Regions from separate parts of the Homo sapiens genome. Here region 2 is linked to region 1. Evidence: fine-mapped expression QTL. A gene starts in region 1. The other region holds a variant in brackets. All regions are shown on one strand. Distances are between the middles of the regions.

Region 1 (5,000 bases):
TTTTTTCATTTTTCTTTTTTTGAGACAGAGTTTCGCTCTTGTTGCCCAGGCTGGAGTGCAATAGCGCGATCTCGGCTCATGGCAACCTCTGCCTCCCGGGTTCAAACGATTCTCCTGCCTCAGCCTCCCAAGTAGCTGGGATTACAGGTGTGCACCACCACGCCCAGCTAATTTTGTATTTTTAGTAGAGATGGGGCCAGTATGGCTCCATTTTATGGGAGCCCATAAACTAGCAATTAGCCTTCTACACCAGAAACTCTTCGTGGAAAGAACCTATGAAGTGAAAATCTACCAAATCTAATGCAAAATCTCTTACACCACTGCAGATAGGATTTTTTTTTAAAAAAGGGAGGTTTTGCTAGATAAACCACTAGAGGATGCCAAAATTTAATGAATTATTTTCAAATGGTGTGAACAACAAAGAGAAACATTTTCCTAGTCCTTAAAATGGGCACAAGAATGAGTGCTATCTTTCTTTAGAGGTATAGTTTGTAAGTTATAGGTATCCTGTATTCAGAAATGCAGAAGACCAGGGTAACTTACTTACCACTAGGCTTCTATTTACATTCAAAACTATTTATTTCACACACCATCTATCTACCTATCATCTATCTTTTCTTTTTTTTGAGACAGAGTCTCGCTCTGTTGCCCGGGCTGGAGTGCAGTGGTGCAGATCTCGGCTCACTGCAACCTCTGCCTCCCGGGTTCAAGCGATTCTCCTGCCTCAGCCTCCCGAGTAGCTGGGACTACAGGCATGCGCCACTAGGCCCAGCTAATTTTGTATTTTTAGTAGAGACAGGGTTTCACCATGTTGGTTGGCCAGGATGGTCTCGATCTCTTGACCTCATGATCCGCCCACCTCAGACTCCCAAAGTGCTGGGATGACAGGCTTGAGCCACTGCGCCCGACCCTACTATTTATTTTTTTAATGAGAAACAATTTAGGATACAGCAGCCATTGAAGAAAAATATCACCACAGGGAAAACCGTAAACGACTTCAGGTCCTCCACTCCCGTGAAGCTTCATTAAGGTGCCACCGGTTTCAATACAAGTGCTTTTCAATCACACCACTTTCATATAAAAGTCTATAAGGCACCTAGGGAGGAACACCGGCATTAATTTCCCCATTGTATTCCTGAATCTATTCCAAAGCCTTGGACCTTTCACAATCTTTCCAAACTGCTGATGTGACTCTTAACACAATTGAGGAGGCTACTTTACCCTGGGCTAGGGGTTCTAGTATATAACTGATTATAGCTGAACTTTTTGTAAATTCCACCTCAATTGCGTTAAACCAACACGTCTAAATGTAACACCAATTTATGAAAAACCCTCATTTGAAACTTTGAAAAAGAGGTAAAATATGGCCAGGCGCAGTGGCTCACGCCTATAATCCCAGCACTTTGGGAGGCCGACGCGGGAGGATCACGAGGTCAGGAGTTCGAGACCAGCGTGACCAGTACGGTGAAACCCCGTCTCTACTAAAAATACAAAAATTAGCCGGGCGTGGTGGCGTGTGCCTGTAATCCCAGCTAGTCGGGAGGCTGAGGCAAGAGAATCGCATGAATCCGGGAGGTGGAGGTTGCAGTGAGCCAAGATCGCACCACTGCACTCCAGCCTGGGCAACAGAGGAAGACTCTTCTCAAAAAAAAAAAAAAAAAGAGGTAAAATATAGCTCACTCTATTCAAATTTTCCAACAAGGAAAAGCTGGCTAAAAACAGAAGGGCCCACGAAACAAATATTACCTCACAATCTCACATAATTTTCCTATGTCTCCCAATTTCTCGCACCTCACACGATCTCACAATCTCTCACTACCTCACGCCGTTCCTCAACTATTAACTCATCTACATATTTTTACAATTTCATCACCTTTGTGAGACCAGTTACGATCCCACACAAAAACGTACGGAACTAATTTTGAATCAAAGCAAGAACTGCACTTGGACTTTTTTAACTCCCCAAAGGAATCATGGAGTGAAGGTAGTAGGAAACCTGGAAAACTGAAAAAAGCGTATTCCATCCTTTCTTCGCACATTATTCTTACAGCCTCCCCACTGTAAGGACCCATCAGGATGCAAGGGCGGCCTGCTTTCCCCTTTTTTCTTACATACCTTATAGAAATATTCTCGGGATCTCCGCCCTACTTATCCTAACAGCTCCTCCCCTTCCAGAGTCAGGCCCAGCAAACGCCTGCCCCTCCCCCTCCGTGTCCCCTTTCCCAATTTATTCCACACATCTCCTCCTCCAATCAGCACACCTTGTGCGGCCCTGGGCCCTCTTCCAATTCACTCGACGTTACTCCTCCGTAGTCCTGCAAAGCCAGGTTCCTCTGGCAGTCCCAGCCGGACCCGGCGTCTTCCGAATACAGTTACAAACCTCGGGTTGTGCGGTCGTATGCGCCTCCTCACGCCTATCCAAGCCTCAAGCCTGTCCCCTTCCGCCCTATCCCGCAGCCGCCCAGCCAAGCAACATTGTTCCAGACCACCCGGGCCCCGAAGAGCGGCCCCCAAGTGCTCGGCCCACCCCCAAGCACTCAGTCTCTGGCTCAGGATTCGCGCCCCGCCCTCTCCATCCTTCACGCAGCTGGCACCGACGCCTCAGCGACAGGCGAAGAGCTCAGCGCGGGAAGCGGAGAAGCAGGACGCTGGACCCGGGCGCGCTCCCCGCTCCTAACCTCCGCCTCGAAAGCGCGTTCCCTCACGCAGGGCTCCCGCCGCCGCCGCCGCCGCGCCCCCTCCCCCAGCTCTCCCGCCTCCAGCGGGCTCCTCACCTCAGAGCAGCGCCCAAGAGCCCGAGAGGAATCGGTGCTGCGCTGCTGGCGCGTCGCGTCGGGTCGCCTGGGGGAGTGGCGCCCAGGAAGGCAGCAAGCCGGGTGGCCGCAGTGGCGTCCCTCACTGAAGCGGCGTACCGCAGGCCCCGGCCAACGGCCCTCCCCTCAGCCGAACAAAAGAGCCTCGCAGTCTGCGCTGCCCGCCGCTCGCACCGCGCAGGCGCAACGACCCGCCGCACGGCACCATGGGCCTCGGGGGTCTGTCCAAGACTACAAGGCCCGAAGCGCCGCGCGCCGCGCACGCACAGTAGGCGAGGGTGGTAGGGACTTATAGTTTTTAAACTGTAACGGTGGAGAGATTGCAGCGTAGAGCGTTGTAACCTAGAATATTAGAACATATGGGCCAGGGGCAGTCGCTCACGCCTGTCATCCCAGCACTTTGGGAGGCCGAGGCGGGTGGATCACCTGAGGTCAGGGGTTCGAGACCAGTCTTACCAACAAGGTGAAACCCTGTCTCTACTAAAAATGCAAAAATTAGCCGAGCGTGGTGGCAGGTGCCTGTAGTCCCAGCTACTCAGGAGGCTGAGACAAGAATTGCTTGAACTTGGGAGGCGGAGCTTGCAGTGAGCCGAGATCCAGCCACTGCGATCCAGCCTGGGCGATGGAGCGAGACTCCATCTCAAAAAAAAAAAAAAAAAAAAATTAGAACATATGATTTTTATAAGCGAGCCCCCTGATGCTTGGCCCCCAAAAAATCAACCACTTCTGGACAGTTCTGTAATTCACATCCTCAAAATTTTTGAATCTTAGATTCTTCACCAGAACTTTATCATATCGCCGCTGCCTCAAATTTCCAATGATTTCTTAGTCCTCAATCTCTGCCTCCTCAAATCTCTGTAAAATTCCTACTCACGCCGGCACGGTGGCTCAAGCCTATAATCCCAACACTTGGGGAGGCGGAGGTGGGTGGATCACTTGAGGTCAGGGTTTCAAGACCAGCCTGGCCAACATGGTGAAACCCCATCTCTACTAAAATACAAAAATTAGCTGGGCGTCGTGGCGGGCGCCTGTAGTGCCAGCTACTCGGGAGGCTGAGGGAGGAGAATCGCTTGAACCCAGGAGGTGGAGGTTACAGTGAGCCGAGATCGCGCCATTGCACTCCAGCCTGGGCAACAAGAGCGAAACTTCGTCTAAAAAAAAAAATACTGTTCAGTGTTAAGATTACTTCCCCTTTGAGGTCTTCCCTGATTCCCTAGAGTAGGTTAGGTCCCCCCATAGGCCTCTCATAGCTTCCTGAATTTCCCCCTTTTCACTGGCTGCGCCACAAAAATGTCCTCTTTTTCATTGTAAGTTGTGCTCACCTTTTTCAGTGTCATTAATCTCCGTCAGCACCTTTCACCCAATCATCCCAAGGAAACACACAATTAGGAAAAAAACATGTTTTTAAGCCACAATATAACTAAAGTTTTATTTTTTTATTTTAAAGTATCCTTCTAATCAGGAGGAAGAGGGAAACTCTATTGCACTCTACCCCAAAAGGCAAGAGTTTGCATTTATAAGACAGTTTTGCTGATGCAGGCACTGTTCAGGGCAGGAGTTTGCATTTATAAGACAGTTTTGCTGATGCAGGCACTGTTCACGGCTCTGGAGAACTGTCATGTAAGAAAAACCCAGCCCAGCAATATCATAATAGAGTTTAGTTAAAAGGGCTTCAAGAAAGCACAGAGAAGATGAGAGGTGAAGCCAGCTGGACTTCCTGGGTCGAGTGGGGACTTGGAGAACTTTTCTGTCTTACAAGAGGATTGTGAAATGCACCAATCAGCGCTCTATACCTAGCAAGGGGATTGTAAAATATACCAATCAGCACTCTGTAAAAACACACCAATCAGCCCTCTGTAGCTAGCAAGAGGATTGTAAAATGCACCAATCAGCACTCTGCAAAATGCACCAATCAGCGCTCTGTAAAATGCAGGAATCTAAAAGTAGCCAATCACAGGGAGGATTGAAAAAAGGGCACTCTGATAGGACAGAAATAGCAAATGGGCAGGGACAAACAAGGGTGTAAAAGCTGGCCCCCTGCCCCCCACCCATTCCTGTTAGCCCGCAGCAGCAACCTGCTCAGGTCGGTTTCCACGCTATGGAAGCCTTGTTCTTTCGCGTTCTTTCGCTCTTCACAACAAATCTTGCTGCTGCTCACTCTTTGGGTCCCTGCCAGCTTTAAGAGCT
Region 2 (5,532 bases), 350 kb after region 1:
CCATCCATAAACCCACACAGATGTTTAAAGCTTCAAATACCTTTCTGTGTGTAAAAACCTCAATAGACTACAAAGTTAGGTACAGATGTTGGAGTTTATTCATTTTAGTTTCAGCAACAAAAGACAAATATGAGGATGAATGTATCTCAAAATTTGATCCGGCAATTTCACTTCTAGGAATCTATCCCACAAAAATGCTCACAGCTATGCAAAACGATGTATGTGTGAGGAATTTCACTGCAACTTTTTGAAATTCAGAGATAACCTAAATGTTGTCAATAAGGAATTGAGTAAATAAATTATAAAATTATGATGCATAGATACTATGCAACACTGTAATAGTTAAAAAGAATAAGAAAGTAAATTTATAACTTTATGGTTGTTATAAGAGTTATAAGGGCATGAAAGCCAACTTATAAAAATTAACAGATGTGGTTATTATATCATTAAATCCTTGGGTGTTCACTAGATACTTGAGTCAAGAGTGACCATAGAAAAATACACCCAGATAAACCTTAGGGAAATATCCAAAGCTTTAAACAAAAAGGGACATATCTAATAGTTGCATTTCTATTTACTATATCATGGACATCTCTTCATGTCAGTACTTCTTAATTTTTATTACTAAAAAAATTACACAGAGCCAGGCACAGTGGCTCATGCCTGTAATCCCAGCACTTTGAGAGGCGAGAGGACTGCTTGAGCTCCAGAGTTCAAGACCAACCTGGGCAACATAATGAGACCTCATCTTTACAAAGACTAAAAAACACTAGCCAGGCATGGTGGCACATGCTTGTAGTCCCAGCTACTTGGGAGGCTGAGGTAGGAGGATCACTTGAACCTGGGAGTTCAAGGTTGCAGTGAGCTGTGATCATGCCACTCACTGCACTCCAGCCTGGGTGACAGTGAGAGCCAGTCTCAAAACAAACAAACAAAACAAAACAAAACAAACACATAATAAAACATAAGCCATGGATTATAAAGATAGTTCTCTAGTCTAACTATTGAGAAAAGTTAGACGATTTGTAGGTAGTTGAAGTGTATTCTCAGGAATACAAATCTATAATATCCTAGCAGTGTAAGTTATAAGTTGAAACAGCCCTAAACCAAGAATCAGGCATCCAGGACTCTTGTCCCAGCTCTACCATTAAGTCACTACATGACATCAACCAAACCACTTTTCTGGGCCCCAGTTTCCACATCCAGAAAATGAGAATGTTAAAGTTCATGTTCTCCAGGGTCCCTTCAAGCTGAAAATTCTATGGTTCTATGAAATCACTTTTCAAAGATTCAATAAAGGATGTTTATATATAATTATAGTCTCTGGTCATTTCTGACACTAACAGGAAGGTTTTGACAAGGCCTTAAATACTCACATGCAGAGAAAGTACACTAAGAATTTTTTCTTTTTTCTTGAGACAGAGTCTCACTCTGTCACCCAGGCTGGAGTGCAGTGGTACAAACACAGTTCACTGCAGCCTTGACCTCCCAGGCTCATGCAATCCTCCTGCCTAAGCCTCCTGAGTAGCTGAGTCTATACAGTGCACCACCACACCTGGCTAATTTATTTTTATTTTTATTTTGTAGAGACAGGTTCTCCCTATGTTGTTCAGGCTAGTCTCGAACTCCTAGGCTCAAGCAGTCCTCCCACCTCGGCCTCCCAAAGTGTTGAGATTACAGGTGTGAGCCATCACATCCAGCCCAGAATTTTTTTATTAAAAAGGTTCCTGCCCTCAAGGAACCTATAATTTAAAAAAGAAAATAAGACAGTTGAATTAATAGAAAAACAGTAGAACCACGTTTTACAAAAGGAATGTACAAAACGAAATTGTTAAGTGGGATCAGTGGAACTCAAATTTATGTTCCTAGAAGCCTTTGGCTTACTCAGAGGTGTTCAGAAGCTGCTTCCAGGATAGGGCAAGAGGGCAAAGGAGTGAGTACTCCACCTCCCCATCCTGGTTTAATCAGAGTAACTCTGCTTTCATCTGCATCATGCATCTAAGAAATATAACACTTTTACAGAAATAGGGCAGCTATAATAAAAATTTGAAAACCACTAGCCTAGATGATTTCTAAGGCCTGTTCCA[A/C]CTTTAAGGTTTCACAATTCTATGATTCTAAGATGTATGTAAAAATAAGTTTTTATATTTTGCATTCAGCTTTGCAGGTACATAGGAAATTAACTTCATAAAGATTAATTCTCCTTTAAAACAAATAATTATTTTGTAATACGAATATAAAGCCCTAGATGTACACTGGTCATTACAGAAACACAAATCAAAACCAAAATGAGATACCATCCCACACCAGTCAGAATGGCGATTATTCAAAAGTCAGGAAAAACAGATGCTGGTGAGGCTGACGAGGCTGTGGAGAAATAGGAATGCTTTTACACTGTTGGTGGGAGTGTAAATTAGTTCAACCATTGTGGAAGACAGTGTGGTGATTCCTCAAGGATCTAGAAACAGAAATACCATTTGACCCAGCAATCCCATTACTGAGTATATACCCAAAGGATTATAAATCATTCTAATATAAAGACACATGCACACGTATGTTTATTGCAGCACTATTTACAAAAGCAAAGACTTGGAACCAATCCAAATGCCCATCAATGATAGACTGGATAAAGAAAATGTGGCACATATACACCATGGAATACTATGCAGCCTTAAAAAAGAATAGTTCATGTCCTTTTCAGGGACATGGATGAAGCTGGAAGCCATCATTCTCAGCAAACTAATACAGGAATAGAAAACCAAACACTGCATGTTCTCACTCATAAGTGGGAGTTGAACGATGAGAACACATGGACACAGGGAGGGAAACATCATAAACCAGGGCCTGTTGGGGGGTGGCGGGCAATGGGAGGGAGAGCATTAGGACAAATACCTAATACACACGGGGCTTAAAACTTAGGTGCAGCAAACCACCATGGCACATGTATGCCTATGTAACAAACCAGCACGTTCGGCACGTGTATCCCAAAACTTAAAGTAAAAACAAAAAAACAAAAAACAAACCCTAGATGTATAATTTAACACACTCAGATTTTCCTGTCCTGAATTTTCTGAATGTGAGGCATGATCATAATTACAAAAGAACTGGATGGGAATACAAGGCAGACAAAGGGGTTATAAAAAAGATTTGCAAGATCCCTGGAACACCACGGACTAGCTGTCAGTTTTGCCAGTGAAGTAAAAGATACTGAACTAGAGCTAGAATCACTCGGCTCTACTACTGAATTAGGTCATTTTTGTTTCATAGAACACATCTCAGAAAAATCCATGATAATTACTACAGTGTTTTCTATGCATTATTACATTTAATTCTCCCAACTCCATGAAACAGGTGTTATTTTCTTCCCCATTTTACAAACAAGAAAACCGGAGCCATGGATGTTAAGTACTTTGCCCAAGGTCAAAGAGCCAGGGCTCAAACCCAGAGAGTCTGACAGCAAAGCCCATGCTCTCAGCCACCAAAAGCTGTACCCCATGTTGCTACTGGTGACTCTCAGATGCTGGGTAGACAGCCTGCCCTCCAAAGGTCAAAGGATAGGATTCAAATGGGACTCTGCCTCCAATTCCTCTATAAATTTATTTGTCTCATTATCCAATCACAAAGAAGAGTTTTCACTTCCCTTATCAAGGCTGGCCCTAGATAAAAATAATGAGGTAGCTGCAGCTTGTTCATCCTCCCTCCCCGTCACGGCTCCTTCTTCATATGAGGAAGGAAAGAAATACTGACTCCATGAAATTTGTTCTGATGCCTCCCAAGAATTGGCCACTCCTTATCTTGCGCACGCACTGAAGATGTATATGTGTACACATATACATCTGTGTGTGTGCATGTAGTACTTTCTTGCCTACTTTACATTTCATCCCTCTCCCCAACTAGATCATATCTCCTTAGGAATCACAACTAATTTTTACTCATCTCTGTATCCACAACACCTGACAGAGTGCCTAGCATATAATGGAGGCTTGATAAATGTTTATTTGTTTGAATGAAGGAAAGAAGTACATTCAACTCGGCACGGTGGCTCTCACCTGTAATCCCAGCACTTTGGGAGGCTTAGGCACATGGATCACCTGAGGTCAAGAGTTCGAGACAAGCCTGGCCAATATGGCAAAACCCCGTCTCTACTAAAAATACAAAAATGTTCTGGGTGTGGTGGAGTGCGCCTGTAATCCCAGCTACTGCGAAGGCTGAGGCAGGAGAATTGCTTGAACCTGGGAGGCGGAGGTTGCGGTGAGCCAAGATTACACCACTGCACTCTAGTCTGGGCTCAAATAAATAAATAAATAAAGAAGTACATTCATACATTCATGCTGTCTCCAAGGTTCCCAGTGTGTCCCATTGTGGCGCCTCACCTAATCTTGCTTTTCTCGGGAACCCTTTCTCCCAGTCAAACTTTGTCAAGCCTGGGCTCCCTTTCTCCTCCAGATCTGCTCTCTGCCCTCCAAAATGATAACCAGTTAGCTAACCTTATGTGTAATAAGTGCTAATGAAGTTAGCTGAGGTTAATATATTAATGTATTACTTCTTTTCATAATGTATTTTCACTTTAACTAGAAACAATTCCTTGACCTAATAGAGCCATTTCTAATGGTGAATGCATTATGCCAGCATTCAGGATGGGTCGGGGGTGGGAAATCATTGGCAGGAGAGTTTTAAGGACCCTGGCCTAGGCACCGTAAAACCACATGAACCCACCCACTTGTGTAGAAGAGTCATGGAACTAAAATGGCAAAAACACATAAATACTAACACTGCAAGTACATGTGATCTCTACTGTGACCAAATGAGTTGACCAAAGAAATGAAATTTGATCTGCCACAACAGGAGTCTGGGGTTCCCCACTGATCTTCAAGCCAAGTTAGGGTCACCTGAATGACAGATGCTCCTAAAGAGAAATGAGCTAGCCCTGTGTTTGATTGGTATGGGGCTAGGATGTTGGAGACAGCAGGAGTAATCTAATACATCTTTCACCACACAGATGAGGAAACTGAAACCCAGAGAGATAGGTGACCTGTTCAAGGCCACGAAGCCAGAGCCAAAATTGGGACAAAATAATTTATTTCCTTGAGCTAATATACAGGAAATTTTCTTTTCTTTTCTTTTCTTTTTGTTTGTTTGTTTGAGGCGGAGTCTTGCTCTGTCACTCAGGCTGGAGTGCAGTGGCATGATCTCGGTTCACTGCAACCTCCACCTCCTGGGTTCAAGAGATTCTCCTGCCTCGGCCTCCCCAGTAGCTGGGATTACAGGTGTGTGCCACCACACCCAGCTAATTTTTTGTATTTTTATTAGAGACGGGGTTTCTTCATGTTGGCCAGGCTGGTCTTGAACTCCTGATCTCATGATCCGCCCACCTCAGCCTCCCAAAGTGCTGGAATTACAGGCGCGAGCCACCATGCCTGGCCTTCTATCTTATTTAAAGCATCCTACACATTAGCTATTACAAAGCCTATTATTTGCCACAGGGCTCAACTATTTAAAGGATCTAACCCAAAAGAATCATGGCTAAAGCCTCTG

The links. PIP is the estimated chance that this variant, and not a neighbour inherited with it, causes the effect.
Region 2: its variant is the best candidate, but not a certain one, in a credible set for the expression of CBX1 in lung (TOPMed, PIP 0.83).

What each region holds. Positions count from the first base shown.
Region 1 is chr17:48,098,494-48,103,493 of GRCh38, forward strand. CBX1 (chromobox 1) reads right to left here and starts at 2,985. Exons shown (of 5, transcript NM_001127228.2): 1 at 2,775-2,985. RefSeq lists enhancers at 2,718-3,317, 3,144-3,403 and a silencer at 2,724-2,773.
Region 2 is chr17:48,446,854-48,452,385 of GRCh38, forward strand. All of the region lies in intron 2 of LOC101927166 (a long non-coding RNA gene), which reads left to right. Among named protein-coding and RNA genes, the nearest start is that of SKAP1, 19 kb to the left of the region's middle. The variant A/C (reference allele first, on the strand shown) is at 2,088.